Regions from separate parts of the Homo sapiens genome. Here all the other regions are reported to be linked to region 6. Evidence: microRNA targets listed by miRTarBase, many of them from high-throughput screens and not tested one by one. Region 6 holds a microRNA gene; each other region holds the end of a gene's coding sequence.
Evidence for each region. Region 6 holds the annotated microRNA hsa-miR-4756-3p (CCAGAGAUGGUUGCCUUCCUAU, at 1,728-1,749, shown strand). A microRNA usually pairs through its seed, bases 2 to 8, with sites in the 3' UTR of a target mRNA and lowers its output. Matches are read on the target gene's strand: a 7mer-m8 pairs with bases 2 to 8, a 7mer-A1 pairs with bases 2 to 7 and ends in A, and an 8mer does both.

Region 1: the mRNA of FAM81B is a reported target of hsa-miR-4756-3p. Seed matches in the 3' UTR shown: 7mer-m8 at 1,024-1,030.
Region 2: miRTarBase lists SMIM19 as a target of hsa-miR-4756-3p. Seed matches in the 3' UTR shown: 7mer-m8 at 1,697-1,703.
Region 3: miRTarBase lists MEAF6 as a target of hsa-miR-4756-3p. Seed matches in the 3' UTR shown: 7mer-A1 at 933-939.
Region 4: the mRNA of TEX261 is a reported target of hsa-miR-4756-3p. Seed matches in the 3' UTR shown: 7mer-A1 at 1,314-1,320.
Region 5: the mRNA of SLAIN2 is a reported target of hsa-miR-4756-3p. Seed matches in the 3' UTR shown: 7mer-m8 at 3,159-3,165, 7mer-A1 at 1,594-1,600 and 7mer-m8 at 1,203-1,209.

The regions. Positions count from the first base shown.
Region 1 is chr5:95,449,335-95,454,325 of GRCh38, forward strand. FAM81B (family with sequence similarity 81 member B) reads left to right here. Exons shown (of 10, transcript NM_152548.3): 10 at 815-1,107. The coding sequence ends at 948. Among named protein-coding and RNA genes, the nearest start is that of FAM81B, 60 kb to the left of the region's middle.
Region 2 is chr8:42,551,416-42,556,406 of GRCh38, forward strand. SMIM19 (small integral membrane protein 19) reads left to right here. Exons shown (of 4, transcript NM_001135674.2): 4 at 1,129-3,780. The coding sequence ends at 1,193. Among named protein-coding and RNA genes, the nearest start is that of SMIM19, 12 kb to the left of the region's middle. RefSeq lists an enhancer at 2,956-3,477.
Region 3 is chr1:37,489,992-37,494,982 of GRCh38, reverse strand. It overlaps MEAF6 (MYST/Esa1 associated factor 6), which reads left to right. Exons shown (of 7, transcript NM_001270875.3): 7 at 876-4,990. The coding sequence ends at 884. Among named protein-coding and RNA genes, the nearest start is that of MIR5581, 8.5 kb to the left of the region's middle.
Region 4 is chr2:70,984,254-70,989,219 of GRCh38, reverse strand. TEX261 (testis expressed 261) reads left to right here. Exons shown (of 6, transcript NM_144582.3): 5 at 203-305; 6 at 505-3,278. The coding sequence ends at 620. ANKRD53 (ankyrin repeat domain 53) reads right to left here. Exons shown (of 6, transcript NM_001115116.2): 6 at 3,721-4,609. The coding sequence ends at 3,920. Among named protein-coding and RNA genes, the nearest start is that of ANKRD53, 8.1 kb to the right of the region's middle. RefSeq lists an enhancer at 4,339-4,886.
Region 5 is chr4:48,421,259-48,426,249 of GRCh38, reverse strand. SLAIN2 (SLAIN motif family member 2) reads right to left here. Exons shown (of 8, transcript NM_020846.2): 8 at 49-4,239. The coding sequence ends at 4,173. Among named protein-coding and RNA genes, the nearest start is that of SLC10A4, 60 kb to the left of the region's middle.
Region 6 is chr20:54,065,176-54,070,166 of GRCh38, reverse strand. It overlaps MIR4756 (microRNA 4756), which reads left to right and starts at 1,682; the gene lies at 1,682-1,759. The region is part of intron 1 of BCAS1 (brain enriched myelin associated protein 1); the gene reads left to right. RefSeq lists an enhancer at 1-854.

The DNA of each region.
Region 1 (4,991 bases), not on the chromosome of region 6:
AATAATGAATTATCTGGCCAGGAATCATGTCCCAAACTTAACTGGCCCTTCTTTTAAAGGCTCTGCTTTCTGTTTAACTATCAGAGGTTTAATTTTACTTATTCCATTAGTAAAACTTCAGGGTGAACTGAAAAGGAATTTACCACCTGCAAGTTCTTTCATTTTACTAATGAGGAGGAGTTCTAAAAAGGGGGAACTTCAAATTAATGGTTTGCTGCTTTATGCCTTTAATAAAAATGTGTTGAGAAACGACTCTGTGAAAGGCCCCAGTGAATAACAAATGGGTTGTGCCCTAAGGCCTTGAGGTTTGATAGGTCTGTGGTCAGGAGTGACTAGACATGCATAAGAGAGATACAAAGTGCTAGGAGGGAGGAGGGCAGCAGGGGGCCGCTGTTAGGTCCCTCAAATAGGCTACTTTCAGAGAAGATTTAAAATCTCATCTGTGATCTTTACCTTCAATTTGGTAACAAGACTGAAAAAAAATCACACAAGTCTCTCATCAAAGCATTCAGAAAGAATAAAATATTTTAAATTTCTCTCTTGCAATATAGAATTATGCAATATATTTGAGGAGGAGAAAAATAAATTTCACAATGAAACCAGATAACTAGATATAAGTTGAAACACTATTGTGAATGGATCTTCATGACATACAAGAAATATATTATGTACAATTTTAGGCTGGTCTTCATAGAATTTAATGCGCTTGGAATTAAATGATAATCAATTATGGCAGGACTGCCGATTAGCAACTTTTTTAAAAAAAAGCTCTAATGCATTGTTTAAGTGTACCTATTCTTTTACCCTCTTACAGGATTTAAATCAATTCATGACTCTCTCAGCTCCCTCCAACAAATACAGAAAACAAAGATGGATTTAGAGAAATATAAAGTACAGAAAGACCTAAAGAAATTACAGCGCAAGATAGTGGAACTCCAGGAAGTATAAACCTTTTCAGTCATCTTCTTTTTCATCAGCCAATGGAGTGATTTGTTGGAAAAAGTTCTGAAGAAGAAAGTTACTATCTCTGGGATGTTTACTGCTTCTAATGTCTCCTTTTAAGGAGACGAATGTACCAGAAAAATAATAAAGCAAAGAAGCTTCGGATGTCTTGAATTTATTAATGAAAAAACTAAGAAATTTCTTTATATAGCTGCCTTTATGTATATATATACCTATAAATAACGAAAGAGGAATCTACATAAGGTACATGAGTGAAGTAGGCCAGCTGTAATATATTAAAGAATGACAGGAGCTCTGGCAAATTGGAGAGCACTTACTCTGTCTAAAAATAATAGCTACTATGTAGTGACAGTCCATGACTAACATATATATATATATATAAAATCCATTATTATCCAAAATTCCACTTTTCAAGAGAAATTCCTCTATTTTTAAGCTTTAGCAACTAGTTCAAAATAGTTCTCAAACTATGTGAGATACGCCTGTGGAGCAGATATGACCTAGTGGTCAGTTTGCAACTTCTAATCTCAATGTTTGTAGCAAGTCTAACTTATGCATATTTAAAATATATTTTCCTTGTACTCAATATGTACCAGAATTATAAGCAATTAAGAGCCAAACCATGCAAAATAAGAGAATACAACAGTTTCCATGAAAACATATCCAACGTAATTTGACCTAGGTGCTAAATTCAGAAGTACTTCAAAAATGCTAGTTTCCTATACAATTAAAAATTGTTGGCCAAGTGCAGTGGCTCACACCTGTAATCCTAGCACTTTGGGAGGCTGAGGTGGGTGGATCACTTGAGGTCAGGAGTTTGAGACCAGCCTGGCCAACATGGTGAAACCCCGTCTCTACTAATAACACAAAAATTAGCCGGGTGTGGTGGCGTGCGCCTGTAATACCAGCTACTCGGGAGGCTGAGGCAGGAGAATCACTTGGAACCCTGGAGACAGAGGTTGCAGTGAGCTGAGATCACGCCATTTCACTCCAGCCTGGGTGACAAGAGCAAAACTCTGTCTCAAAAAAAAAATTGTCTAACTTTTCTAGATATAAATATTAAATATAGAGCCTAATATTGAGCAGTATATTCATGAAACATAAAAATGAACTATTCAGGATATGCACTCGGCTATAACAAGGACTAATTTCTAATCACAGAACTTATGTAAGCTTGGCAATGGAAACTTTGCTTCCGACTTAGGCTCCTTCCTTGGCTTAGGGAAGAAAAGTGACAACTTCCTCCCCTAATACAGAACAAGTTTACCTTCTGAGTAAATTTTTGACTAATGCTCACTTCTGTAATGTTTTAACTCTATGAAACATCTCCTTTTATTGCTATTAATAACCCACATGCAGCATCATTGAGTCTATAACTGAAGGGATTTTCATAGCAGAATTTAATTTAAGAGTTTAAAATGCAGTATGTTCAGTGATGATATGGTATCCAACGAAAAAGTAAGAAATATTAAAATAATGCAATGGTAAGTGTCCTTTGTAACCAAGTATCATGCTAAGACAGAGGGCTAATATCCCAAGTAATCCCAAATAACTTTTACAAGTAAGTAAGAAAATAATCAATTTTTTTTCAAAATGGGCAAAGGATATGAACAGGCAAGCCACAGAAGAATATAATAATATGAAGGTATGAGAAGATGTCCAACTTTACTGTTAAATAAATAAAAATTAAGAAACCCTTAGCTACTATTTTCAAGATTGGCAAAGATTAAAGTGATTGATAATACTGGGCTGGCAAGGGTGGAGAAAGAGTGCACTCTCATACATTATTGGCGAGTCTATAAATTGGTACAATGATTTAGATGGCAATTTGAGAACATCTGTTAATGTTTTTAAATGTAAATATCTTTTGATCCTGCAATCCATGGCTAGAAATTTATATTACCGGGGGAAACAACTCCCAAAGTGTGCAAAGATATATGAACAAGAATGCTCATTATAGCATCATTTGTTATAGTTAAAAAAAAAAAAAAAAGGAAAAGAAACACCAAAACCAGAAAACACCCAAATATAAGGAATTGATTGACTAAATGGTATTAACAAGACCACTCCCCCCACCACCCAATGCTGGACAGCCCTTTAAAAAGAACACAGAAAGATGTCCAAGATATACTGTTAGGTGAAAAAGACAAGTTTAAAAGCAATATGGATATGATCCACTTTTGTCATAAAATGTTTTAACTAAGTTAAACATAATATGCATATACTGTATGCCAAAAAAGGTAAGAATTTACAACAAACTTAGTGGATTCTATTTTTTAAAAAACTTCTGTTTTCTACATTAAGGATTTATGAAAGCTTTTATATTTTTATATAATATTTTTGTTTCTACTAAAAATATTTTATAAAAACAACAACAAATATAATAGGCTGAAAGAGTAACTCTTTGTAATGAACTAAACAAATGATTGTAGGGAGGGTTAAATTAGGAATTAATACAGACTAAGAGTCAAGTCATCTCACTCTCTTTTTGCTATACAGACATAGCTACAAAAGCAGAGAGGATACACAGCAACTGAAAAAAATATACATTTTCTCCTTGTTCTAAATGTTCTAATGTTCTAAAATGTTCTAAATTAGATTGTAGTTCAAATAATAGTGTAAAATCAGGCCAAAAGTTTTCCAACAATAGATCTTTCATTGCTCTTGGCCAGGACAGTAACATGTGGGGCAGTAGATCAAAGGATCAAAGAATCCTCTATCACCACTCTTCTACTTGGGATGCCAAATTGAGGTGTTCACGGGTTTGCACAGACTCTAGATAGTCAAAGAACTATGCTCATTGAGCAGGTGGATCCAGGTTTCTCAGAGTCTAAAGCTTATGATGTTTCAGTTTGTTATTGATGTACTGTCCTGATGCCAGATGAGTTAGCACAGAAGTCTATAAGAATATTCCTGGAAGCCACTCCTAATCAGGACAGCTAGTAGTAACTCAACACAGAAGTGACTGTGAACAACATGAATATATCCCTGTAATCCAAATGTATCCCCAACTCAACTTCTCTTTGTCCACAGCCACTTCAGCACCACCCGACATCAAGGGAAGTGGGAGTGAAAAGAGGCAGTGGTCTTAATCAATGGCATTCATCAATTATGTTTAAAATGTCTTACTTCTGTAAATATGACAATGATCTTGTAAATACATGGCTAGAGCTCACGCAAGCAGGAGCCCCTGAAGCTTAAGAGCCATTGTTTCACAGTAAATTCACCTCTGTTCAAGGAACCAGTGGAGCACTGGGCCTCCCTCCCCTTGCATTTATTTTGACAGAAATCCAAAAAGATAAATAAAACTATCCTCCTAAAGAAGCTCAATATACATGGCACTTTATTCCATATCAAACAATATTACTTAATCCTTTGGGAAATGTCAGACTTCTCTTCCCACAAATATAGGATGATTGAGCACTGGAGAATCTGCAATCCAGATCCACGCTACAGACTTGAGGCATATGTTAAAATATGCTCAGGTAGTTTTTACTTTAAGTACAAACACCATTTAAACAGTCTTGAATAGTTAAGGGTCCTACTGCCCTTAAATTTCCTGTTGTTTCCTTCCTATTATCAACACCTGCTCTTAGAAAACATAGGAGAAAAGCCCCTTGACATTAGTTTTGACAATGACTTTTTGGATATAACACCAAAAGCACAGGCAACAAAAGTAAACAAGTGAGATTACATCAAATTAAAAAGTTTCTGCACAGCAAAGGAAACAATCAGCAAAATGAAAGAACCTATGAAATGGGAGAAAATATTTGCAAACCATATATCTGATGGGGAACTAGTATCCAAAAACATATAAGGAACTCAACAACTCAATAGCCAAAAACACAAATAACCTGATAAAAAAAATGGGCAAAGGACCTGAATAGATGTTTTTCCAAGAAGATATACAAATAGCCAACAGATATATAAAAACTCAAATGATAACAGGTGTTGGTGAGGATGTAGAGAAAAGGGAACCCTCGTGCACTGTATGTGGGACAATAAATTGGTACAGCCATTAGGGAAAA
Region 2 (4,991 bases), not on the chromosome of region 6:
CAGTTTTTCTTCAATTAACGTTTCTTAGAAGTACAAAAAGAAGACAGAATTGCATATCTATTTTTTCTTCTAGTTTATATTGAAGACATTTATTATATGTTTAATCAACAATAAGCCTGTTAGGTTTTTAAGTTAAAATATAGTCAAATTCCTTATGTGTGGACAAAAGCATTATTATTAACTTTAAGATGGAAATGACAGGTAATAAAGGAAGAAATTACTAAACATTAATTTTAATAGCTTAGGTCAGGCATGATGGCTCACACCTGTAATCCCAGCACTTTGGGAGGCCAAGGCAGGATGATCGTTTGAGCCCAAGAGTTCAAAGACCAGCCTGGGCAACATGGTGAAACCCTGTCTATACTAAAAATAAAAAAAATTAGCTGGGTGTGGTGATGTCCACCAGTAGTCCCAGCTACTTGGGAGGCTGACGTGGCAGGATTGTTTGAGCCTGGGAGGTCAAAGCAGCAGTGAGCCATGATTGTGCCACTGCACTCCAACTTGGGTGACAGAGTGAGACACTGTCTCAAAAATAAATACAGTTTTGAAATTTTAATAGCTTAATGTTTATATTTTAAAGCTATGAATAATCCTGATACATGAATAATAATAATAAACATATAAAAATGGGCATCAGCAGTGTTGAGAAATTAGAGGATCATGAAGTGTAATACATCTTTTCCAAAGAAACAAAATTGTTTTAATTCTAGACTAATTACTTAGCGGGGTACAGTGGCTCACATCTGTAATCCCAGCACTTTAAGAGGCCAAAGCAAGAGGATCACTTGAGGCCAGGAGTTCAAGACCAGCCTGGGCAACATGGCGAGACCCTATCTCTGCAAAAAATAAAAAATTAGCCGGGTGTGGTGGTGTCTGTCTGTGGTCTCAGCTACCTGGGAAGCTGAGGTGGGAGGATTGCTTGAGCACAAGAGGTTGAAGCTGCAGTGAGCTGTGATTGTGCCACTGCACTGCAGCCTGGGTATCAGAGGGAGACTCTATCTCTGAAACAAACAGACAAAAACTAATTCTTCATTGAGAATCATGACTTGACTGTAATGTAATATTGTTAAGTAGTAATCATTTTGCAGTTTTATTAATTTTATCTCTTCTTTTTCTTGTTGTGAATAGCAAGAAAGTACGACTATCAGCAGCCACAAAACCAAGCTGACAGTGTGCAACTCTCATTGGAATGAAACCTCAGAAAAAGAGCAACAGAAGTAATTGTTTCAAGCTCCTGATTCTTTCTACTAAATCATGAACAGCTTTAAAAACATTTCTGTCTGCATAAAATTATTTTACTTGTAACTTTTCCCCAATTGTTCTGTGCATTGTTTTGCCTTTTTAAATTACATCTCCAAGTGGCTCAAAAGGCCTTGACACAGGGAACCTGCACATATCCAGGATATGTGTAACCAGCGATGGTGACTTGACCTTGCCAAGACCTGTGATTCCTTCAGGATACAATCAGTGAGAAATAAAAACACATCTTGGGAAGTGGGAATCCTGGAGTTTATGCCATTTGCAATATTAAAAAATAAAAATGCAAGTTATTATTTCAATAATAACTTCCTGTTTCATTGTATTCTGTGAGTGATAAGTGTCAGATCAATAACAGATTAATTTGTTGTTAACAGCTCTTTTTTTTTTTTTTTTTTTGAGACAGAGTCTGTTGCCCAGACTGGAGTGCAGTGGCACAATCTCTGCTCACTGCAACTTCCACCTCCCGGGTTTAAACGATTCTCCTGCCACAGCCTCCTGAATATTCTGTTAACAGCTCTTTAATTAATGATCTTTGCTTCTTCAGAACTTGTATGGTAGACCGTCTTTTCTACAGCATGATGCATACTCCTGTGCTAATTTTAGAAGCTTTCTGTAACTAGATTTTTCCTCATTATGCTCCCAGGAGCGAGTTTGTTTTTATCCCCGTTTCATTTCTACCAGGTAGCTCTACTTTAGGCCATACTGGGGACCTGCTGTTGAATAAATGGATGCCTGTGTATTGGTGTTGGCAACTCTGCGGTAGTAGTGCTACCACTGGCGAGGCAGTATTACTGCCACTGGTGAATGTTGCTGTCTGGTTACTGCTGCATTTTTGGCATGCTAAGCTTTCCTAAAGAGCCTCATATCTTTTCCCATGCTGTACTGTACAATGAAATGTTTTTACCTAATTTTTCATGTTTATTTAAATAAAAGCTGACTGGGTAATAGTGGGGAAGTTTAATTGTCCACATAAGTCAAAAGAATCCGTTTTTGAACTAGAGCTATTTTCAATTATAAGAGTGAGCTGGCTGGGCACGGTGGCTCACGCCTGAAATCCCAGCACTTTGGGAGGCCAAGGTGGGAGGATCACGAGGTCAGGAGTTTGAGACCAGCCTGGCCAACGTGGTTAAACCCAATCTCTACGAAGAATACAAAAATTCGCTGGGTGTGGTGGCATGCGCCTGTAATCCCAGCTACTCAGGAGGCTGAGGCAGGAGAATTGCTCGAATCTGAGAGGTGGAGGTTGCAATGAGCCAAGATCACACCACTGCATTCCAGCCTAGGCGACAGAGCAAGACTTCGTCTCAGAAAAAAAAAAAAAAGTTAATAATGGCTTCAAGTATTTCATTTTCCCCTTATTGTGAAATAAACTATATACATTTTAAATGGAAATTAAGGTTTAGACCAAATAAAATCATTCAGGGAAATTGCATTTACTTTTAAAAATGTGTTGTTCAAAAATGTATATATAGTACAAAGTGAATTGACCAAACAGAATAATTCTTAACTCACAAAGGAGTTTGAGCGCACTTCCTACATGTTGAATTTAAATCTGACTAAAGGATTGTAAACAGTTGTAATTATGGGTTGTAGTAACAGAGCAACAAGGGGACAATCTTCTAAACTTGCCTTTGCCTAGGAGAGCTACTGTATATTTCCACAAGTGAATTTAATCAGCAGTAGGAGTGGTTTACTCGTCACTGACATGTGGCACAATCTGGACAAATTACACAAACTGGCTATCTCAGATGTGTAAAATTAATGTACATAAATAAACGTAAGTCACACAATGAATTTCCTTTGTGTCCACTAGATAGAGATGGTCCTAACTACAAACTAGTAGATTATTTGATGAGCATCAAGCCCTGGCAAGTGACAGGAGATGAATTCCTCTCCGTTTTTTCCTTAAAGCAAACTGATGGGAATTGCACACACCCCACTGGCAGGAACAACAGCAAGCCGGCTTTGAAGTCTCTTCCCTGCTTCAACAGCTGAATTGGGGAGAGCGCAAGCCCTGCAGCCACACTTCAAAGCGGCGCTGACTGGCTGTCCTGCTTCTACCCAACATCCACCTGAGACTCAACAGAACTGTTTTCTTTGGAAGAAAAATGGAACTACTAATAAGCTAGTAATTAACCCTTGTATTCTTTTTCTGGTTTCATCTTCCTGTTTTAATGTGTAAGATATTCAGCAGTAAGCACTGGTCAGCCTGCCCTGGTGCACAGCTTGAGTGTGTTAAATAACTGGCTGTTTAGCTGATGCCAGCCAGCTGCGTGAAGGGGAGAAGGCCGCCTCCAAGGACACAGATGTTTGCTGTTGACCTCACGCTGTGTCTGGTTGAGTTATTCATGATTCATCAGAAAATGACATGCAAGGTTTATGGTAAAACTGCTGTACAATCAGAAGTATTTTAAGTATGCATTAGAAGTAAGATAAAATAGTAATAAAAATAGTTTCAGATGTTAAGATGATACAAGAATAAATTTAACCTAGAAAATAAAGGGAGAAGGAATAAAAGAACGTGGTATAGAGCCAAGTAATTCATTCAGTGGTTGGTTCTGGAGTGTTTCCCCTGTGCTTGCTGTATGTGATCCTCTTTCATAGGCTATTCTAATAGCGGAACTAGAATAAGAGGTGCCAGAAAACCAACGGAAATAGGAAGGGCACTGAGCTAATCTCCAACATGTTCACAACAGTGAGGACCAGAGGGCAGGGGCTGGAGCTCCGTGAGTGTATTTCCCACTTGGCTCCTTAATGAAGCCAGAGCCAAACTTAGACAAAGCTATAAAGCAGGAAAAATGTCCCACCTCTCCCTTTTACATCCCTCTTTATCGTCCCATAAGCCTGTGACTGAGACAGGTCTTGAATGAGGATTTAAGAATGGGAATGAGGAACTCAGAACTAAGGTGGTGAACCCTACACACCATAGCAGACATGCAAACTTTCTTTGACCTCTAACCCCAAATAAGTGGCATTCAGCATTGGACCTTATACAAATGAAACTGCTACTTTTATTTTATTTTATTTTATTTATTTGAGACGGAGTCTCACTCTGTCACCCAGGCTGGAGTGCAGTGGCACCACGTCAGCTCACTGCAACCTCTGCCTCCTGCGTTCGAGTGATTCTCCTGCCTCAGCCTCCTGAGTAGCTGGGATTACTGGTATGTGCCACCACGCTGGGCTAATTTTTGTAGTTTTCATAGAGACGGGGTTTCGCCATGTTGGCCAGGCTGGTCTCAAATTCCTGACCTCAGGTGATCCACCCACCTCGGCCTCCCAAAGTGATGAGATTACAGGCATGGCCACTGCGTCCAGGCTTACCTTTATTTTATTTAGATATAGTAAAAAACTAAGACCATTTGTGGAGGTTAGTAACACTCCACAATCCAGATAGGAAGGTGGGGTAAGTCAAAGGGAGGCCCCTCCCTGGCCCCAGTTTTGATGCTGAAGGAACACTGCTTTCACCTCCTTCAGGGTGATGTTTCTAGCGCTAGAGTTTCTTTTCTTCCAAATGGAGAAGTGACAGAGGTCTCACTGTTAGGAAAGAGTGACTCTATCTCTGGGGTTTTTATTTATATATATTTTGACAAATTTCAAACTAGCCAAAGAAAATTGAGAATTTTTAACTACAGCTGATTTGGTGGTGTTAACTGCAAATGCTTTTGGGCTCAGCAATCAGAATTTATTGAGAAAATGAACCACAAAATTGTAAAATGTCTATGAGACAACAA
Region 3 (4,991 bases), not on the chromosome of region 6:
TTTTTTTGGACTGGTGAATTCAGGTGCTCTAATAAGAGCAAAATTGATGTTTCAATCCCTTTATGGACTCAGAAGGCAGACCATTTTCAGATGTGAAATATTGTACATTATATTTGGAATAGAATCTTTTTTTAAATTTTTTTTTTGTGTGTGTGACAGGGTCTGGCTCTGTCACCCAGGCTAGAGTGCAATGGTGTGATCTTGGCTCACTGCAACCTCTGCCTCCCAGGCTCAAGCCGTCCTCCCACCTCAGACTCCTGGGTAGCTGAGACCACAGGCATGAGCCACCACACCTGGCTAATTTTTGTGTTTTTTGTAGAGACATGGTCTTAATTTGTTACCCAGGCTGGTCTCGAGCTCCTGACCTCAAGTGATCTGCCCGCCTGGGCCTCCCTAAGTGCTGGGATTATAGGCCTGAGCCACCACGCCTGGCCTGAAATACAATCTTTTTTTTTTTTTTTTTTTTTGAAACAGAGTTTCACTCTTGTCACCCAGGCTGGAGTGCAATGGCGCGATCTTGGCTCACTGCAACCTCCGCCTTCCAGGTTCAAGCGATTCTCCCACCTCAGCCTCCTGAGTAGCTGGAATTACAGGTGCCCACCACCATGTCTGGCCAATGTTTTGTATTTTTAGTAGAGACGGGGTTTCACTATGCTGGCCAGGCTGGTCTCGAACTCCTGACCTCGTGATCTCCCTGCCTCGGCTTCCCAAAGTGCTGGGATTACAGGTGTGAGCCACTGTGCCTGGCCTGAAATATAATCTTTAGCTATAGAGCAGTCCCCTAGTAGAGTTGTTTATGAGATTTTTTTTTTCCTTTAGGGTCAAACAACTGTTCTGCCGAGAGTAAGTTGGGACTTTTGTTTTTCTTTCTTTAGGACTATTAGAAGACACATTAGTGCAGAAGCTTCCAGGCTGTAGAGCCCTGCTTCCCTTCTCTGACCTCACAAAGATAAACATCCTTCACCTGAGTTCGTGGCCATCCACCTCTGCTCTCCCAGACCCAGTGCCTGTGACTTTGAGTAGTTTGTTCTAAATGTGGTGACAAACAAGTCATTTCTGTAAGACATTGGGTCTTACTTTATGTCATTTTTAGTAACAGAACTGCAGGAAGATGAAGACAATGTTGTAATCCCAGCAAGTTGCTAACTGTGCGTTTCTCCCTTCTTAGAATGAATGTCTCCCCCAAAACTGGCTGGCACCAGCTTCATCTGTGATACCCTTCAAGAAATGTTCTCTGGTTTTGTTTTATGCTGAAAGTAGAACACAAGTCACATTTCAGATGGAGGCTGTAAATATCTGGCATTTTCTTATATTGTTTTATGTTTTCTTGTTTTTCTCTTGTTGTTTTTATCTTATTTTCTTTGGGGTTTTTTTGTAATGCCTTTGTACAGCTCATACTTTCCTGCTGACATATCTGATCATCTCTTTCATGCAGTTGCCAATATTCATAACTGAAAATAATCTGGTTTATCATAAGTAAAATGGGAAACTTGCCTCTGTTTTTTGCAAGGGGAGGTAAAGAGTGTTTAGTAATTACCTATCTTAAATCTTTCTGAGTTGGTAGTAGATTCATGTTCAAGGAACAGGAAAAATGGAAAAACATAAGTTTAAATCAGTTCTTTTTAAATAACTTTTTATTCTTTTGTATAAATAAAATTTCACAGGCTTCAAATTCTCATGCTTTACTTTTAAACCCGAGATTGTTTTTTCACTTATTTATTCATATCATGCCTTATGGAAATTTCTTTTTCTGTATTTTCTCTCTTTGCTGGTATTCACCTGATTAAATATTGCTCTAAAAATCACCATGGCATATGGAAAGTCTCAAAATTATACCAAAAGTGATAACTTATGTCGTTCTTAAGTGGAGTGAAAGGATAGCATCAGTGAGAGCCAGTGTTGCCCACCAGGTCTCCCTTTCTTGGAGGGCTTGTTGGGGCTGAGGAATCTGCTAGTAATCGTTACCTGCCTCTAGTGCTGTGGTGAACTTGCGACAGGGTCTGGCTGCACATTGGAATCACCTGAGAAGCTTTAAAATACTCATGCCTGGATCCCATCCCTAGAGACTGGGGTACAGCCTAGTTATTGGGAATTTCTTTAAAAGAGTTCCTGGGATTCTGATAAGAAGCCAGGTTGAGAACCACTACATTAGAAGACTGAATGGTTTAATTTACATCCTATGTTATGATTGGTCTAAGGGATAAGATTTGGGGTCTAACCTTTCCTTTCACTCTAGTTAGTCATAGTCCTTGACTTATGCCTATATCTTTGTAAGAAATAGTATGTTTCATTTGTGATAGTATTGGTAGGGCTGAATATGGATGGCATCTACTGTAAAACAAGTCTACCTTGTCAGATGTGCAAAAGCTTTCACTCTTGTTCTCAAATAAACTTTTGTGGGTTTTTTTTTTTTTTTTTTTTTGACTCTGGCTATTTAGATCTTTGACTGTGTCTTTGGTAGCAGAACTCCAGTGTCAGGATTTTTAAGGAAATAGTTTCTTATATTTAGATTATTCCTTAAAAAAAAAAATCCTAGAAGCATTCTGTATTTTTTGTCTGTTGGTCTCCTTTGCTGGGAGGGAGGAGTGGGATGCCTACAGTTTCCTTCCTTTTGGGGAAAGCACACAGCAGACCTTAAAATATTTTTGACTCTTGGGCTGGGTGCGGTGGCTCACACCTGTAATCCCAGCACTTTGGGAGGCCGAAGCGGGCGGATCACGAGGTCAGGAGATCGAGACCATCCTGGCGAACACAGTGAAACCCCATCTCTACTAAAAATGCAAAAAATTAGCTGAGCGTGGTGGCGGGTGCCGGTAGTCCCAGCTACTCGGGAGGCTGAGGCAGGAGAATGGCATGAACCTGGGAGGCGGAGCTTACAGTGAGCTGAGATAGTGCCACTGCACTCCAGCCTGGGCGACAGAGCGAGACTCCATCTCAAAAAAAAAAAATATTTTTGACTCTTAACAGTTTGAGATTGCTAGAGATGGAATAGTACTGCTCTGTTGCGCCACTGCACTCCAGCAGCCTGGGCGACAGAGCGAGACTCTGTCAAAAAAAAAAAAAAAAAGAAAGAATAGTACTGCTCTTAAAAAGATTATTTACGTATTTATGAAACTGCAGTGGGATGCCTAGTTTCCTTCCCTCTGAGGAAAGCACACAGCAGACCTTAAAATATTTTTGACTCTCATAGTTTGACATTGCTGGAGACAGAATAGTACTGCTCTTAAAAAGATTATTTAAGTATTTATATATTTTATTTATTTATTTATTTATTTATTTATTTATTGACAGGATCTTGCTCTGTCACCCAGGCTGGAGTGCAGCGGCCTGATCAAAGCTCAGTGCAGCCTCGAACTTCTGGGGTCAAGCCATCTTCCTGCTTCAGCCTTACTAGTACCTGGGACTATAGGTGCATGCCACCATTCCCAGCTAATTTAAAACATTTTTATTTTGTAATGATGGCTTCTTGCTATGTTGCCCAGGCTGGCCTCAAGCAGTCCTCCTGGCCTCAAGCAGTCCTTCTGCCTTGGCCTCCCAAAGTGCTGGGATTATAGGTATCAAGCAATTCTCCTGCCTCAGCCTCCCCAGTAGCTGGGACTACAGGCATGCACCACCATGCCCATCTAAGTTTTGTATTTTTAGTGGAGATGGGGTTTTGCCATGATGGGCAGGCTGGTCTCGAACTCCTGACCTCAGGTAATCCACCCACCTCAGCCTCCCAAAGTGCTGGGATTACAGGCATGAGCCCTGGCACCTGGCAATATAGAGTATTCTTGACATCTTGACCTGTGCAGTAAAGAAGATAATTAAAATGAGCGATAAATAGTCTAAGCTTGAAAGTTAAAGAGCCTAAGCTTGAAACACTCTGTGACTTAGTTTTTGCATTTATTCTGTCTTCTATGCCCCCCAACCTTACTCCAAATTAATGAGGCATTATTTTATTTATTTATTTTTTTGAGACAGAGTCTTGCTCTGTCGTCCAGGCTGGAGTGCAGTGGCACAATCTTGGCTCACTGCTACCTCCGCCTCCAGGGTTCAAGCAATTATTCCGCCTCAGCCTCTCGAGTAGCTGAGACTACAGGCGCGTGCTACCACACCCAGCTAGTTTTTTTTTATTTTCAATAGAGACCGGGTTTCACCATATTGGCCAGGCTGGACTCAAACTCCTGACTTCGTAATCCACCTGCCTCAGCCTCCCAAAGTGCTAGGATTACAGGCGTGAGCCACTGCACCCGGCCTAATGAGGCATTATTGCTTAAAAATTCACATCAAGCTGGGCATGGTGATATGCACCTTTAGTCCCAGCTGCTTGGGAGGCTTAGAGGCAGCAGGATCGCTTGAAGCCAGAAGTTCAAGGCTACAGTATGCTATGATCATTTCTGTGAATGGCCACTGCACTTCAGCCTGAGTAACGTAGCAAGACGCTGTCTCCAACAGAAAATTGACATCTGAAGCCTTGACTACAGGGGGACTATACTGGTTTATGTGAAGTGTGGGGAGAGAGCAGGATTGTGCTTCTTTGTACACATTTGCTTCTCCCAGGATAGTGTCATAGTGCCTAGGAAGGTGATGTGTGTGTCAGATACAATGATAGTGAAAAGAAGGGATTGGAATTTTCATACCTGTGTCAGTCTAAATGAGCATTACCTTGTCTGAATTGTCTAAGTGGTAAGCTTCGTGATTTGAAACAGTTTTCACTTTGAAAAACTGCTTCCGTGGATTAAAAGTTGTCACCACTAAAGTGGGCTGTGGTGGAGTCGATGCTGATCCTCACTTAGGGCAGTGGCCTCCAAGGGGAAGAGGGCACACAGGATGGCTGGGTGGGGGTGGGAAGAAAAGATTAGGCCTTTGATTTATATTCATTTTGAGGCTCAGCCTTATTTAGTTTCTCACTTTGGATGTATTTTATATATATACATCAAATATACATCAATATTAGTTCATTAGTACATGTAGGTCATTAATTTATAAATAAAAGGTTGAACCACAAT
Region 4 (4,966 bases), not on the chromosome of region 6:
ACATTCAGTCATTTTCAGCCTCCACCTTTCCCCACAGAAGGATTTCCATGTCTGAGGGTGGCGTTCCCTGCTTCCCAGGCCTGGGCCCCCTTTGGAGATCAGGTGTGGCCCCCTGTGCACTCTTGACCAACACGCAGTCACCACACCCAGCCCACTCTTGGCACCTCCGGGGCACCCTCTTCTCAGTCTCTCTTGTTGCCAGGTCCTGGCCTATTTCACTTTCTGCCTGTGGATAATTCCGTTTGCGTTTTTTGTGTCACTTTCGGCCGGGGAGAACGTCCTGCCCTCTACCATGCAGCCAGGAGGTGAGAAGGGATTTGTAAGGGGCCCAGGTGGGGGCAAGCCAGCAAGGCCTGGGTTGGCAGGGGTCCACTGAGGGAACCTGAATCTAGCCCTGTGTTGGAGACACCTGGACTCGGGGTTGGGAGGGCCGTGTTCACACACATGCGCACACACACACACACACTCTCTCTCTCTCTCATATTCTTGCCTGTATCTCCACAGATGATGTCGTCTCCAATTATTTCACCAAAGGCAAGCGGGGCAAACGCTTAGGGATCCTGGTTGTCTTCTCCTTCATCAAAGAGGCCATTCTACCCAGTCGTCAGAAGATATACTGACCCCCATGCAGGCAGGATGTGGGGGGCAAGATCAGGAGAGTCAGGCCCCTGGGCCTCTATGCCAGGTGGGGACCAGAAGTCGGGAAGGCACCTACCACCTGCCCTGGCTTTCTTCCCCTCAACTCTGGAGCCCCATCCCCACCCTCCTTGGGGGGCTCAGCTTGGCTCAGATCTGATGCTTCAAGAGGCTGTAACCTCAGAGGGCACCAAGGAGGGTGGCAGAGCCTGCTTAGCCAGGAGGCCGAGGTCCCTCAGTCCTCCCCTGTCCCTTCCAAGGTGGGTCAGGAGGTTCTGGCCCCGCTGGGGCAGGCAGGGCAGGGTCTGTGAAGCTTAAGAGCAGATGGTGACAAGTTCTCTGGGCAGGTGGCCATGGGGAGGGGCCATGGCTTGGCATGTCCAACAGAAATAGTTTTTGCTGTTGAACGGTGATTTCTGTCCAAGTGCAGATTTCCGTTTGAATAAAGCTTCGCTTCTAGGTGGCACTGTTTGCCTTAATACCCTGACAGTTCATCTTCCTTTCTTCCTGCTAACCTTCTGCTCTGGACTGGACTCACTTTTCTGCTCCAGGGACTCCTTTTCTGGGTTTGGGTCTTGCCCTTCCCAAGGGACTGTTCTTGTGGCCCTTAATGGGAAGGGGGCAGGGGTGAGGAGCTGAGCCTGCTCAAGGAGTGGGAAGTGGGGCTATAGGCAGCCTCTCTGATGCACTCTCTTCCATCTCTTTCCCCAAGGCTCCGTGACTGTCAAACTGGGAGTAGGAGAGGGGACAATTTAGGACTGGGCTAGATTTTCAGAAGAACATCTACAATATCCTATTTATAAATCTTCCTCTGGGAAAAGGAGTGGTTTCTGGCTGAATACTATCTTAGGCTCAAGGAGAAACAAAATAAAAATTAGCTTCCAGGCAGCCTGTTTTTAAAGAAATGGGACTAATGGGAGAAGCTGTTTGTCACTCTAAGAGCATCCAAGCCCTGGCCCGTCTGTGCACTCTTGGCTCCTGGGGAGATATATCTGCCTTCTAAGAAGGCAGGCCAGGTCTTGGGCACAGACCTGCATTTGTTGACCTTGCACTCCAACTATAGTGCCTTGCAAGTGCTCAACAGTACATATTGGAATGAAGTCCCTATGAGAGCCATTTCTGGCCATGTTCTATACCTCAAAGTGAGGCTGGCAGGTACAGAGATGAACTGTACACATGTGATACATTTAAGCCACTGGAAAAACCCCTGTGCTTGAAAATATTTCCTCTATATCATGCCTGGAGTTCCATCATAGCCCTTCATTTCCTTGGCTTTAGCATTTACCTTCTCTTAAGAATACCAGCTTTCCCCTTTCCCTGAGAGGAAGAGCACATGTTGGTCTCCTCTTAGTGTGAACGAGATTGCCAGGCCCTTTTCTCCTATGCACACCAGGATAGACAAGGCAGGGGATACTGGCAGCCTGCATCATCCTCCCATTGGGCTGACAGCTGGCCCTACTTTCCTCCCTCTGCTGCTTGGTCCCTCACCTTGATGATGTGGCTTCGCCCCCTCCACTCTACTGCCAGTGTTCTCCCAGGGCTTGCTAAATCCAGCAGACCCCTTTCCTGTCTTACTAGATCTGGGCAGCATTTGACATGGCTGATCACCCCTTGCTTCTTGGATGGCACTTCCCTGGCACCTCTGTGGCTAGTTGTCCTACCTCCCTGGCTGTTCCTTTCAGGCTTCCGTGCAGGCTTCTCCACTTGCCCATGCACAGTAGGGTCTTTCAGGGTTCTGCTGTGGGCTCCCTAGGGAAGCCCATCCATCTGGATGGTTTCAAGGATGGTGAGGAATTTAGAGTTGACCTCCAGCCCCAACATCCTTCCTGATCACCTGAACCACAGTTTTGCTGCCCTCTAGGTGCACAGACAATTCAGGTCCATGGCCCAGATGGTACTTGCTGTCTTCTGCAAACCTGCCCCTTCTGGGTACTTCCCTTGACCCCGAGATCACTCAGGAGCCAGACAGGAAACTTATTCTATTCCTGTTTTCTCTTTCTGCCCACCACATCCAATCTCTCAAAACGGTCAGGTCTACCTTAACATCTCTTGATTTGAGCCACTCCCACTGTCATCAGCTTTCACCTGGATTATCGTGACAGCCTCCTACTGCTTCTCTATCATGTGGCCAGAGCTATCTTCCTAAAATGCATTGCATAGTTGATCAAGTCACTCTCTGGCCTAAAACCTTCCTTGGCTCCCTGCTGCCCTCAGGATAAAGTCTGGACCCCTCAGCATGGCTTGTGAGACTCATGGTGTCCTTGTCCCTGCTCACCTCTCTGGTCTCATCACTTGCCTTCTTGCATTCTGGGTCCCAGCCTCCTGTATCCAGAGATGCAGTGGCTCTCCATTGCCACTCTGATTCCTCCTTTCTTTTGGTCACAGAGAAAGGGTACTTTCTCTGTCAAATCTCAACTTAGACTTGACTTCCTCCAAGGAGCTTTGGCTATACTCTCTCCTCCCGACCCCCACCCTGGCATACTACACAGATCACTCTGGGCTCACTTGCCTGCCTAATGGTCATCTCCCCAGTAGACTGTAAGCTCCTTGAGGGCAAGGATTGTGTTGGAATTTTTGTATTAACAGTGCCTGGCTTGGTGCCTGGCACCTAGAAAGCACTCAATAAATGTTTGTTTAATGAATGAATTGTAGTGATGTGTACAAGGGGATACAGGGAAGCCAGTTAACTTCCTGGAGGAAGTACAAGTGCTTTCATAGACTCGAATGGAAACCACACATCCCTCCCCTCCCTTGATGTACTGCCCATGCCTCCCTGAACTGCAGAAACCTCAGTAGCCGCTGGGAATAAGGATGGCAGCCCAGAGTAGCAGGGAAGCCCATGCCAGGGGGACATATTAGTTGCCCTCCACCCCATTCTGGGTCTCAGCTTAGAGCCTGCAGCAGGAAGGGCTTAATCTGAACAAGAAACAGAATTTCCCAGTGGGTCCTTCCATCCTGGAAGCCTGGGCCCTTAGGGCTGGGAGGGCAGTGGGGGTGCCAAAATGTGACAACTTTTACAATGCCAAGGTGAAGAATAGTGTCTGACCCCCCACTCTCAACCTAACTTGGATTTCCTGGCGGCGGTGGGGGGGTGCCAAGAGATTTATTTGCAGAGAAAAGGGAGGCCTGGGGTCTGGGCTTTTGATTGGGAAGGGTGACTCCTCGAGCTTGGGAGTGGGAAGCCCATAGGCACCCCTCCCCCTTTCCTCGCCACCCACAACGTGAATTGCCACACTTCAGCCTTCACTGGGCTGCCTCAGGGGGAGAGGTAGCCATAATAACTTTATGGGTTGGTTTGTGGGGAGGGCAGGGTGGGGAGTCCTTGATGAGATCGCACAGCTGCCAGGAAGGCTTCATCGAATGTGTCACGCAGGTTCATGGCCAGAGTGTCGGTCCAGAAGGTGTTGTCACCCAGGTGCCGCTTCCTGGGCACTTCCCTCATGCTGATGGGGTAAAAGCCCTGGGGCACCTTCATTCTGTATGGCCATACACGTGGGTACAGCATGCGCAGCAGCACCTCAAAAGGCAGCCGCGGCACGGGCGCCACCCAGTGGCCGTCCACTGTGTGCAGCCGCGCACCGCCGTGCCCATCAGGCCTCACCTCCAGGAAGCTGCTGAAGTCGTGCTCCGGAGTGGGGTCTGGATGCACGCCCAGGCGGATGCCCTGCGAGTGGCTGATCTGGGTGGTGGGGGGTCTGGCGGGGTTGTTGCTAACATTCCACATTGTGGGCCGCTTGACCGTGGGCTTCCTGTAGATGGGCTTGGGCATCTCCGTGGGCTGTGGAATGCATTGCAGGCGTGCATCCACAGAGGGGTGGAAGCTCCTGGAACGCTGCGATTCCCGTTGCTCTGGGGTCTTGGAGAGGGCGGTGGCCCGGGCTTGCTTGGTATTGGAGACCAGAGAGTGGCCTGGGTGCAGCTTGCCGTGGAGCCACTTTCTGATAGCAGCTTCTCTGAGAATTTTGTGCTCTTTCTGCAACAACAGAGGGCACAAGAGAGTCATGGAGGACTGCTGCCCTCTGCTTCTGGGCAAGGAGGTCCTGTGGCTGTAGCTTTCGGAAACCACAGTCTGAAGGATGAGGGAAACTCTGAGTCTGATGGGAGGGAAAGTCTGAGTCTGATGGAAGCAACACCTGCCTTATGGGAGCCGGTGTTCCGATGGGGGAGACAACTTTTTCCATAAGGGAGCCCCTGGGCTGAGTGGGGAGACAAAGCACCTCTCCCAAAGGGGGGATCTCCAATCTGATGGGAGAGATGTAGCCTCTGCCCTAGGTGAGACTCCAACTTGACATGGGAGACACAGTCCCTGCCCTAGGGAAAACCTCAAGTC
Region 5 (4,991 bases), not on the chromosome of region 6:
AATAGCAGTTAATGTATACTTCTGTGCAAAAGCAAACTCATGTCAACATTTTTACATAAGAAACATTTATTTAAAAGAAACATTTTCTCCTTAAAAAAAAAAAGACCTTCTACCCTTCCACTTAACATGTCATAACCATGTTACGGACAGTACTTCAATATTTCCGGATTATGGGATTGCAGACAACTATCATTTTTTACCTTTATACTTTTTAATATTTTTAGTTTATGTTCTACAGCAGAGTTTCTATTACTTTCGAAATCAGAAGAAACAGATTTTTTTATTTCTTTTAAAGAGAAAACATTAAGATGACTTAATGTAGATAATTTGTTTCAAACTAGCATTCAGTTAACATAGTTTTAACCAGTTTGTATTACAGTAAATAAGGCCGATGAGTATAATCGGTTTCATTTTCAGACTGGTAAGCAGAGGGCCATTTAGCCACCCAAGACTTATATTTAGGATCATTCAAAATACATCAGTGGTTGAACCTCCATATGGGTTTTTCTGTTGCACTGAGTATATAACAGGTTTAAACTTATGTATTGATTTATAATACAAGTATAGTGACATTTAATTTTAAATGGCTCTTCAAGTTTTTAGACTGGCTTGAGAGAAAAAAACAGAAGGGTGTCTTTTTTCCCTCTCATCACTATTAATCTAATTGTAACATGTAATATTATTTTAATTGTAATTATTCTAATTGTAACATGTAATTGCAAAGCAAATATCTCCTAAAGGAATATGGAGAACTCATTAAACAGTGTACAATTCTTGATTTTTCCATCCATACAAGAAAAGATGCACGTGATCACCTAAATATTCGCATTTGGTATGAAAATGCATTAATTGTCCCTCTTGGAAACTCATAATAGCTTTTTGCTTGTTTTTTTCTAACTAGATACCATACATAGTTATGATCTAGGCAAATGCTAGCTTTTTATAACTAGGTATCAATTCACAGCAGGTAAAAAAGTTCCAAGAACAAATCAATTTAGAGTAAACTGTAAATTTCCTTCAAGTAAAATCCATATATGAAATAACTCTGACAGAGAAAATATAAGACATAATCCAACCCCATGAAGACTAAATCTGAAAGGGCAATATGATTTGGGTTTCTGTGGTTAAAGAAAAACTCAACTGAGTAATTTATTAAAACCAAGTGTAGGCAACTGAGAGGAAAAAAGGAATCTTACCATATCCAGAGATTAATTAAACACTTAAAGAATATAAATTTAATAATAAACATTATGGTCAGGCTGTTTATTAAGGAGGCAACCACATATACAAGTTCGGCTATAGAAATGTTTGCAAATCAAACGTCATGTGACCTTAAAGGACCATGCTTAACGTCAAAAATGGACACCTGTACATTCAATAAAAAGTTAATTTAAACATACATAGTCTAGATCATTCTAGAGTTATACAAACATCTGGGGCCACATATGTATCTAATTTTCTTTCAAAAAAACTTTTTTTTTTTATAAAAGTGATGTATTGAGATAATTTTAAAAAGTATCTGACAATTATGAATGGTCCCCAGTTTTACAAAATGTGATTTCCAGGATACGAAACTGAAAAAAAGTCAACTCTTCAGAGAGTGTTTTATATTGTACAAACAAGTTTTGTAGAAAAATGATCCAGCAAATGCTTGAGTTAAGAATATTTATATTTTTTCCAATTCTTTACACTTTTATTAACACACTTACAAAAAATAACATTCAAACACTGAGAAAATTAAATAACTTTGGAAGCAGAGCTCATTGTTTTCTGCTTACATATAAGTGACAATTCTGGGCTGTTGGCACAAAATAATCAACATTCATAAAACCCTTACTACTATATATCAAACATAAGTTAAAATCATAGGCACTAGTTTATCAAATCCACATTTCTTCTGTAAGACTAACCACAGTAAATCCTTAGATTTTCCCAAACAGAAAAATTGCAATATACAAAGGCTTTCTAGTAAAAAGGCAATTTTTCTCTTTAAGAAACTAAAAGTCAACAGTCTGTGGTAGTACAACAGCAGGTAAAATAATACTTTACCAAACTCAGATCAAAAATATGTTTTAACAAGTGATGAAATATTTTAATAAAAAAAAATAGACATTTTTTTCTGATGCAGCCATTTAAAAACAAAGTTAAATAACCTGAATACTCCTTTTGAAACTGATTATCTAACTTAAAAAATGTAATATGTTTCATAATAGGTAAAATTCCTTTTAATTATTAGATTGCAGCATATATATTTTTTGAAATGTTGCACTGAAAACTGAGACTTGTTCTGTTTTGTACGTGGTTTTTAAAAGAGACAGTAGCTACTTCTTTCTTTTACTTACTTAGACATGAGATACCCCCCTCCCAAAAGAAGATGCTTTATCTTCCTCTGAAAAGCAACATTTTTTAGTTCATTATCATGTAGAATTCTGGCGCCATCCTTTCCTGACCCACCCCATCACCCTCAAATTCAAGGATAAAGTTTCTTCCTTGCATTATACACCAAATACATAGTACTGGCAGTTTAAATCTCCAGCTGCTTGTGCTAAATGAATGACTCTCCACTGGTCAAGCTGACAGACTACCATGGTGTCAGTCATGACAGAATGGAGGTCCTGGTTTTAAGTTTTTATCATCAACCTATCAACCTTAATGCTGTCCAGAATATCAAGCCTTCTATTTCTCTCTCCCAATTTCTTTTGCCAACTTACGGAATGTCTTTGATTAACAGGAAATGAACTTATGTTCAAATCTCTAAAAGCTTTTAGATGACCTAAGTGACAATATCTTAGAGCTGTTCAAATTAAGTATTTAAAAACAGACCTCATAATAAAAAATGAGAGGCCTGCTACAGAAGCAAGTTTTACTCTGGTAAAAGTCTGATAAAATTGAAATAGCCGATTTCAAGGATATATTAAGAGCCATTAGAGAGCAAGTATCAGGTTAGAGTCATACGTAGTAGGGTTTTTTTTTTACCAAAAATGCAAAAATTGATGTAAGGCAGAATCTAAGTCAAAAGGAAAAGAATTTTCAATAGATGTTTTATACAGTTACTCAGTTTAAAGTGGATCAACTTAAGTAGGATTTAGCAGGCTATATTTTCCTACCACATAATAGACCGTTATGCCATGTAATAGCAACAATACAACTGTCATCACCAGAGATTTTGTAGGTTAAGTGCATAGATTTTTTTCCCCCTCTCTCTCATGGTATGGTTTTGTTCCAGGTTGCAAGCACCGAGGTGGTGTTGTATCAAGAATAAAGACACACACTACTTGTTCTTTCCTATCATGAAAACCTGCTAATAGAAACAAGATCTCTTAGTTCTGTAAAGATAACAGCATGTGAAGAAGTTGGCTTCAATAGCAAAGGCCATCTTTCCTGAGCCAGGAACTATAAAGTTCAGAAAGATTGTACAACTGATATTAAGCCCTTTTGGCAATCAAAACAAACACACACAAGTTTGATGTGTCAATGCAACATGATGGATACATGCTGTAACACTATCTGGTGGTGGTGACATGTGAGCTACATCCAAAACTTAAGATTAAATGACAATTTTTCTTTTCTAATGAATCTGCAAAAATCATTTCTGAAATTCTGCTAAATTTAGGAATGTTTTAATCTCTAGCCCAGGTTTCTTTCCTCCCACCCCCTAATCTCAATCTGTAGTTTCCTGGTGTACTAGTGAAACACTTTAGATAATTAGTCAGAATATTAGTTCTCATTAACACAAATATTTATTGATACTATTTATACAGTAAATTAGGTTGAATGTGAAGTTTTGGATAGCCTGAATTCACCATTTTCTTGTGCACAAATGGGCATTTTTCTCATTTACAAATGGGCATTTCTCTTTGGCATCCATTAGGTATTTGCCCAGATATTGGCCTCTGTCAAATATTTTTTAAAAATCAACCTAGTTTCTATTAAACAAAACTAAAAGTGATTCTATGGAGAGTGATTGTATGATTACCAAACACATCTGATGTTAAATGTCATTAAAGTGCTGTTTGATGATCTCTGTCGGTTTGTGCTAATTAAGACAGAGAGGGCTGGGATTTTATAAATCCCAAGAGTCTTATCTGAACAGTCTGCATATAAAAGTTGTTTTTTAGCCTGGTGAAGGGTATCCATGAAGCCGTGGACTTCTGCATTCTTGTCTTTGCTGGTCAGTAACAGCCATCTTTCCAACTGTCATCTTTCATGCTACCATAGGTTTTAGGAGCTGGCAAGGATCTGTAATAAAGCAATTTTGTAATTAAAATTTGATAAATGTCTTTATGAAATAGTACCATACTATCTCACACATATATTAATTACTCTTCAGGTGGCATCACGATCCCATGAAGGCCGTACCAAGTCCTAAGCTCTAAACAGGTACTAGTACAACCTCCCCACACTCTGCATTTTCACAACTTCCAAGTTTTACTGGGCACCAGATGACTTCCCATTTTGTTAACATAGCTACTAGATAAAAGAAAGGAAAAGATGGTCTCACCTTTTCCAAGCACACAGATAACCAACCTTATCATTTACTTATTATTTTGAGAGGCAGAATGATGAATGTGATATTAGAAGCTCAGTGTCAGCATCACTAGAAAGGCAGTATGGGACAGTGATTAAAAGAGCTCCAAAGTCAGACATACTTGGAACTCATAGTTTTATTAGCTATGTGGCCTTAGGCAAATTACTTAATTCCATTAAATTTCAATATCCTCTTTTGAAAAATAGAAATAAGAATACCTACTCATTTAATATTATTATGAAGATTAAACAAAGCAAGCATTTACTTATTTAGCACAGTGATAAATATTTCCAGTTTAATTATATTTGACACCAAAGTTTACTGATGGTGGTAATCCCATTCTTGAAAGGTTACAGATGCATCATTCCCAACCTGTCTGATTCAGAATCATCTGAAGATTACGCAAACAAACAACAAACAAACAAAAAAACCAGCAACTGTAATCCCAGCATTCTGGGAGGCT
Region 6 (4,991 bases):
ATTTGGTGGAACTATTGAGGGTCATTTCAAGCACAGGACATGGGGAGAAGTCACTGGATGGAGGGATAGGCTGTGTGATTTGGGGATCCGTCAGGGCAAGAATGCCCCATAGCCGAGTGGAATCTGAGCCTTCACCTCAGGCATTGCCTAAAGAAGTGGGAGGACAAGAAAAAGGACTTGTGGAGTGCCTTTTGTGAATCTTATTTAACGCTCAAGACCACCCTATGAGGCAGCTGCTGATTCAAATCCTGGCTTCAGGACCCCTGCTGTTTACATCTCCCTCTGAACCAGTTTCCTGCCTGGAAGAGTCATTGCGATTAGAATGCGGGTGCGCTGCAGCCACACCGCCAGATGCCAGCCCCAGCTCCACCCTGGGCTGGCTGGGTGCCCTGGAGCAGGTTCCCTCAGCCCTCTGGGCCTCAGTTTCCTCATCTGTAAAGTGAACCTAATAACAGTACTGAGATCAAAGGGCTGAGAGGACTCTACTGCCCGTAAATACCTGTGCACTTAGTAACTCTTAGCTGTGGTTCTTGTTTTCGCTGTTACCATCGTCTCCATTTTACAACTAGGAACATGAAGCTGGGTGAAGAGGGAGCTGCATCTGGTTCCAGGTCTCATGGAAAGGATGCTGTGGAACTGGAGTCCAGTCGGGCCTGGGATGAGGGTGCAGCCAGTGAGACTCTCACCTTGGGCACGAAATGTAAGGGATGCCAAAAAACTCAGTCATGGAGATAAACGGTATGTTAACACAACATTTTTAAAAGTCAGAATTAATGGCAAGACACCCGTGATGAACAAACTATGAACATGTTACAGAAAGATAAGATCAGGAACAGCGGTAATTTTGATTTTCACAAATTTCATGTTAAAATACTATTCATCTCCATGGCTGAGCTTTTTGGTGTCCCTTACATTGTTCCCCCGGAGTCCAGGGCCTGATCCGCCTCAGCCTCCTGGGGATCCTGAGCTGATCACAGCAGCTTCAGGCCCTGGGTGTATATACTCAGGGTATGTAGAGGGTGCTTCCTCCTAAATAAAGACAACAGACGGGGCGGGGCATGCTAAAGTAGTTTCTCATTTAAGTGAGGGTGGGGGAACAAACCAATGTCCCAAATCACAGAAGATTCTTTTTTTCCAAAGAGTTCTGGAACCCAGAAGGGTTTTGTTTTTAGGAAAAAGGCATGAGCTTTGGGAAAAGCAATGGGCCCGTTAAAGCCCATGGATTCTGCCTGCTTTACCATGACAAGAGATGTGGAGGGAGAGGAATTGAAAAAGGCTTTGGGTTGGGGGCGGGGGTACCTTTGCACCTTGCAGGCTCATCTGTCCTGCTGGAGTATTAGATGTGACTTGATTGTCTCTGTGTCTGCAGCTTCTCTTCAAGCCAAGTGCCCTGCCCTGAAGCAGTTCAGGATTTGAGTGCCTGAGTCACGTGGACCCAGGTTCAAACCCCAGGTGTGCCTCCCCGTAGCTTTCTGACTGCTACTCTTGGGCAAGTAGGACTAGTAAGGTGCCTACCCTCATGGAGGTGACGTTCGTGAGATGAGGGGATGGCATTGCTCAGCCTTGGTTTCTTTATCTGTGCAATCAGGGAATAATGGGACTCTGCAAGGGAAAAGGAGACAATGTGTGTGAAGTGCCTGGCACCAGGGTCAGGGCAAGGGTGAAGCCAGTGAGCACCTGGGGGATAAAATGCAGGGAGGCGCTCACTCTCTGCTGCCGATTCTGCACCAGAGATGGTTGCCTTCCTATATTTTGTGTCCTGCTATGCTCACCCTGGTGCTGCCTGGCACATAGTAAGCCTCCAATTAAAATTACCTGCGATTATCATGCACTTAACAATGTTTGGTGCAATAATAAGACTATGAGAGCGAGCTCTAAGATTTTTAGGATTACCATCCGTTTGTGCAAACATAATTAAGTACTCCGAAAGCAAAACATCAATCACCAAGCAGCCCTAAAACATCCAAGGTGATTTTGATCAAGGCACCCCTGCCCCTGGACCCACAAAGTCCCATACCAGGAATCAGGGCTTGGGCAGTTCAGTGAGGACTGGATTTCAGTTCCCTGTGTCCCCTTGTACAGGAGGCAACCTGTAGCACTGTACCTGGCACTCCTGATAATAGCTGCCGTGTTCCTAGCACTGTGCGGGCACACACATGGAGCTGCAGGACTGTGGGGCAGGCAAAGCGGGGTTGTTCTTTCCTCCTGCAAGGTCTTTACTGATGTTGGGGGCAGAGGGCTGGTTCTGCTGGGTGTGCCAGCCTGGCCATGTTGGCGTCACCCTCAGCTGAGCAGTGAGGAGGGCCCCTGGGTTACCTACATTCCATTGCATTGATCGAAGGTGTTGCTTGTTTACTTGGTGACTAATTCTGTCACCATTCCACCCTTCAAAACCACCCCCCCTCCCATTCAACAGTCGTCTAGCTGCCTGCTGGTGATGAAGTTTCAGAAGTGCTTTCTCCAGGCCAGCTTGCATGGGGTTTGGCGTTTGGCCTGTTTCCAGGAGGAGGGCCTATTATTAATCTGTAACTACAAGGAGGCGACATGGACCATCAATCACTGTGTAAAAGAGGAGGGATTTGAGGGCAGCTTCCAGGAGGCCAATTCACTCATGGATCAGAACACAGAACTAACTCAATTATAACAATAATAAGATAAATGAATAATATTAGCAATAACTAACGTTTACTCACCTGAGTACTGCCAAGCCCTGGCGCTAAATCCTTACAGTGATTATCAGTGACCCTTCAATTGTTCAATCCTCACTTTATTTGATTTATTTATTTACTTATTGAGAGAGTTTCATTCTGTCGCTCAGGCTGGAGTGCAGCGGTGTGATCTCGGCTCACTGCAACCTCCGCTTCCTGGGTTCAAGCGATTCTCCTGCCTCAGCCTCCCAAGTAGCTGGGATTACAGGCATTGTGCCTCCACATCTGGCTAATTTTTGTATTTTTAGTAGAGACAGGGTTGCGCCATGTTGGCCAGGATGGTCTCAAACACCTGACCTCAAGTGATCCACCCACCTCAGCCTCCCAAACTGCTGGGATTACAGGCATGAGCCACAGCGCCCGGCCTAATCCTCACTTTAGATTGTACCATATATATTCCTTGCCTAGTTATAATTTTCTCATTGCAAGAATGAATATGCAGGAAATATTTTCTATTCCATGTTCTATTATATTACATATAAATATTTCATAAAACTATAACATCACTTATACAGCAGAAGAGACAGTAGAAAGTATGAAAATAGAAAAGTTAAAAGTCTAAACTCTGGACTTGAGTTTGCGAGGGTTAAGTCCTCATTCTCCCACTTACTAGAAGATGATCTGTATTAGTCAGCTTGGGCTGTGGTAACCAAAACACCACAGACTAGGTGGCTTAAACAACAGTCATTTTTGTTTTCTCATAGTTCTGGAGGCTGGAAGTCCAAGATCAAGGTTCTGGCCGATGCATTTCTGGTGAGACCACTCTTTCTGGCTAGCCAACAGCTGCCTTCTTGCTGTGTCCTCACACGGTTGAGAGAGAGACAGAGAGAGCTCTTTGGTGTCTCTTTTTATAATGACACTAATTCTATCAGATCAAGGTCCACCCTTCTGATTTCATTTAGCCTTGATTCCTTAGAGGCCACATTTCCAAATGCAGTCATATTGCACGTTAGGGCTTCAACACGAATCCAACACGAATTTTGGAAGGACACATTTCAATCCATAGCATGATCTTAAGTGAGGAGTTTAAGTTCCCTGGGCTCAGGTTCTGCATCTGTAAAATGGGGACAATAAAAATACCTGCCTCGGCCGGGCCCGGTGGCTCACGCCTGTAATCCCAGCACTTTGGGAGGCCAAGGCGGGCGGATCACGAGGTCAGGAGATCGAGACCATCCTGGCTAACACGGGGAAACCCCGTCTCTACCAAAAATACAAAAAATTAGCCGGGCGTGGTGGCAGGCGCCTGTAGTCCCAGCTACTCGGGAGACTGAGGCAGGAGAATGGTGTGAACCCGGGAGACGGAGCTTGCAGTGAGCCGAAATGGCGCCACTGCACTCCAGCCTGGGCGACAGAGCCAGACTTCGCCTCAAAAAAAAAAAAAGAAAAAAAATACCTGCCTCATCGGGTTCTGATAAGGAAGCTGTGAGTTAACACAGAGAAGCATTCAGAGCAATGGCTGGCATAAGGTAGGCGCTACAAAAATATTAGGTATTACTACTGCTAATGTATGGTCCATTTTATTTACTGCTTATACTAACAGCTTATCTCTATTCCTCAGCTGCTGTGCACCAGCCACCCAGTTATACAACACATGGGCCACACCCTTCTAATCTTCACAGGAGCTCCACGCAAGGAATCTATTATGGTCCTTCCCTCCACCCCTCACTTCTCAGACACGGAGCCAGGGCTTATGCATATGGCCAGGGTGAGCCAGAGGGGAGCCCAGGCAGAGGGCTTGCGCTATTTCACCACCACAGACGAATTTACTCACGTGCTTTTCAGAAATGCAGATCCCTAGGTGACACCTGGCTACAAACACGAGGAGAACATCCCCAAGTCCAGGCACTAGAGCAGGGCCCCTCAATATCAGCACTAGCGACCCTCAGCAAAGCAGACAATTCTTCGCTGGGGGAAGGGGGCGGTCCTTGGCATTGCAGGGTATGTAGCAGCGTCCCCAGCCTCTACCCACCGGATACCAGTGCACGCCCCCCAAAGCTGAACCGTGACTATCAAAACTGCATGCAGGCATTTCCAAATGCCCCTTCGGGGCCAAAATCGCTCCTGACTCCAGAAACGCTGTGCTCCACTTATTGTGAGGGAGAAACAAAGAACAGCATATTTCCAAGGAGAAAACGTTTAGCAAAGCAATGTAAGTCATCGAGGAATAGGACAAGATATCCAAAATATGAAATATAGATATATAGTCCTGGAAAATTGGTACCAAAATAAAATACCCTAAACATTGTAAATATGTTATATATATAGTGTGTGTGAGATAGATAG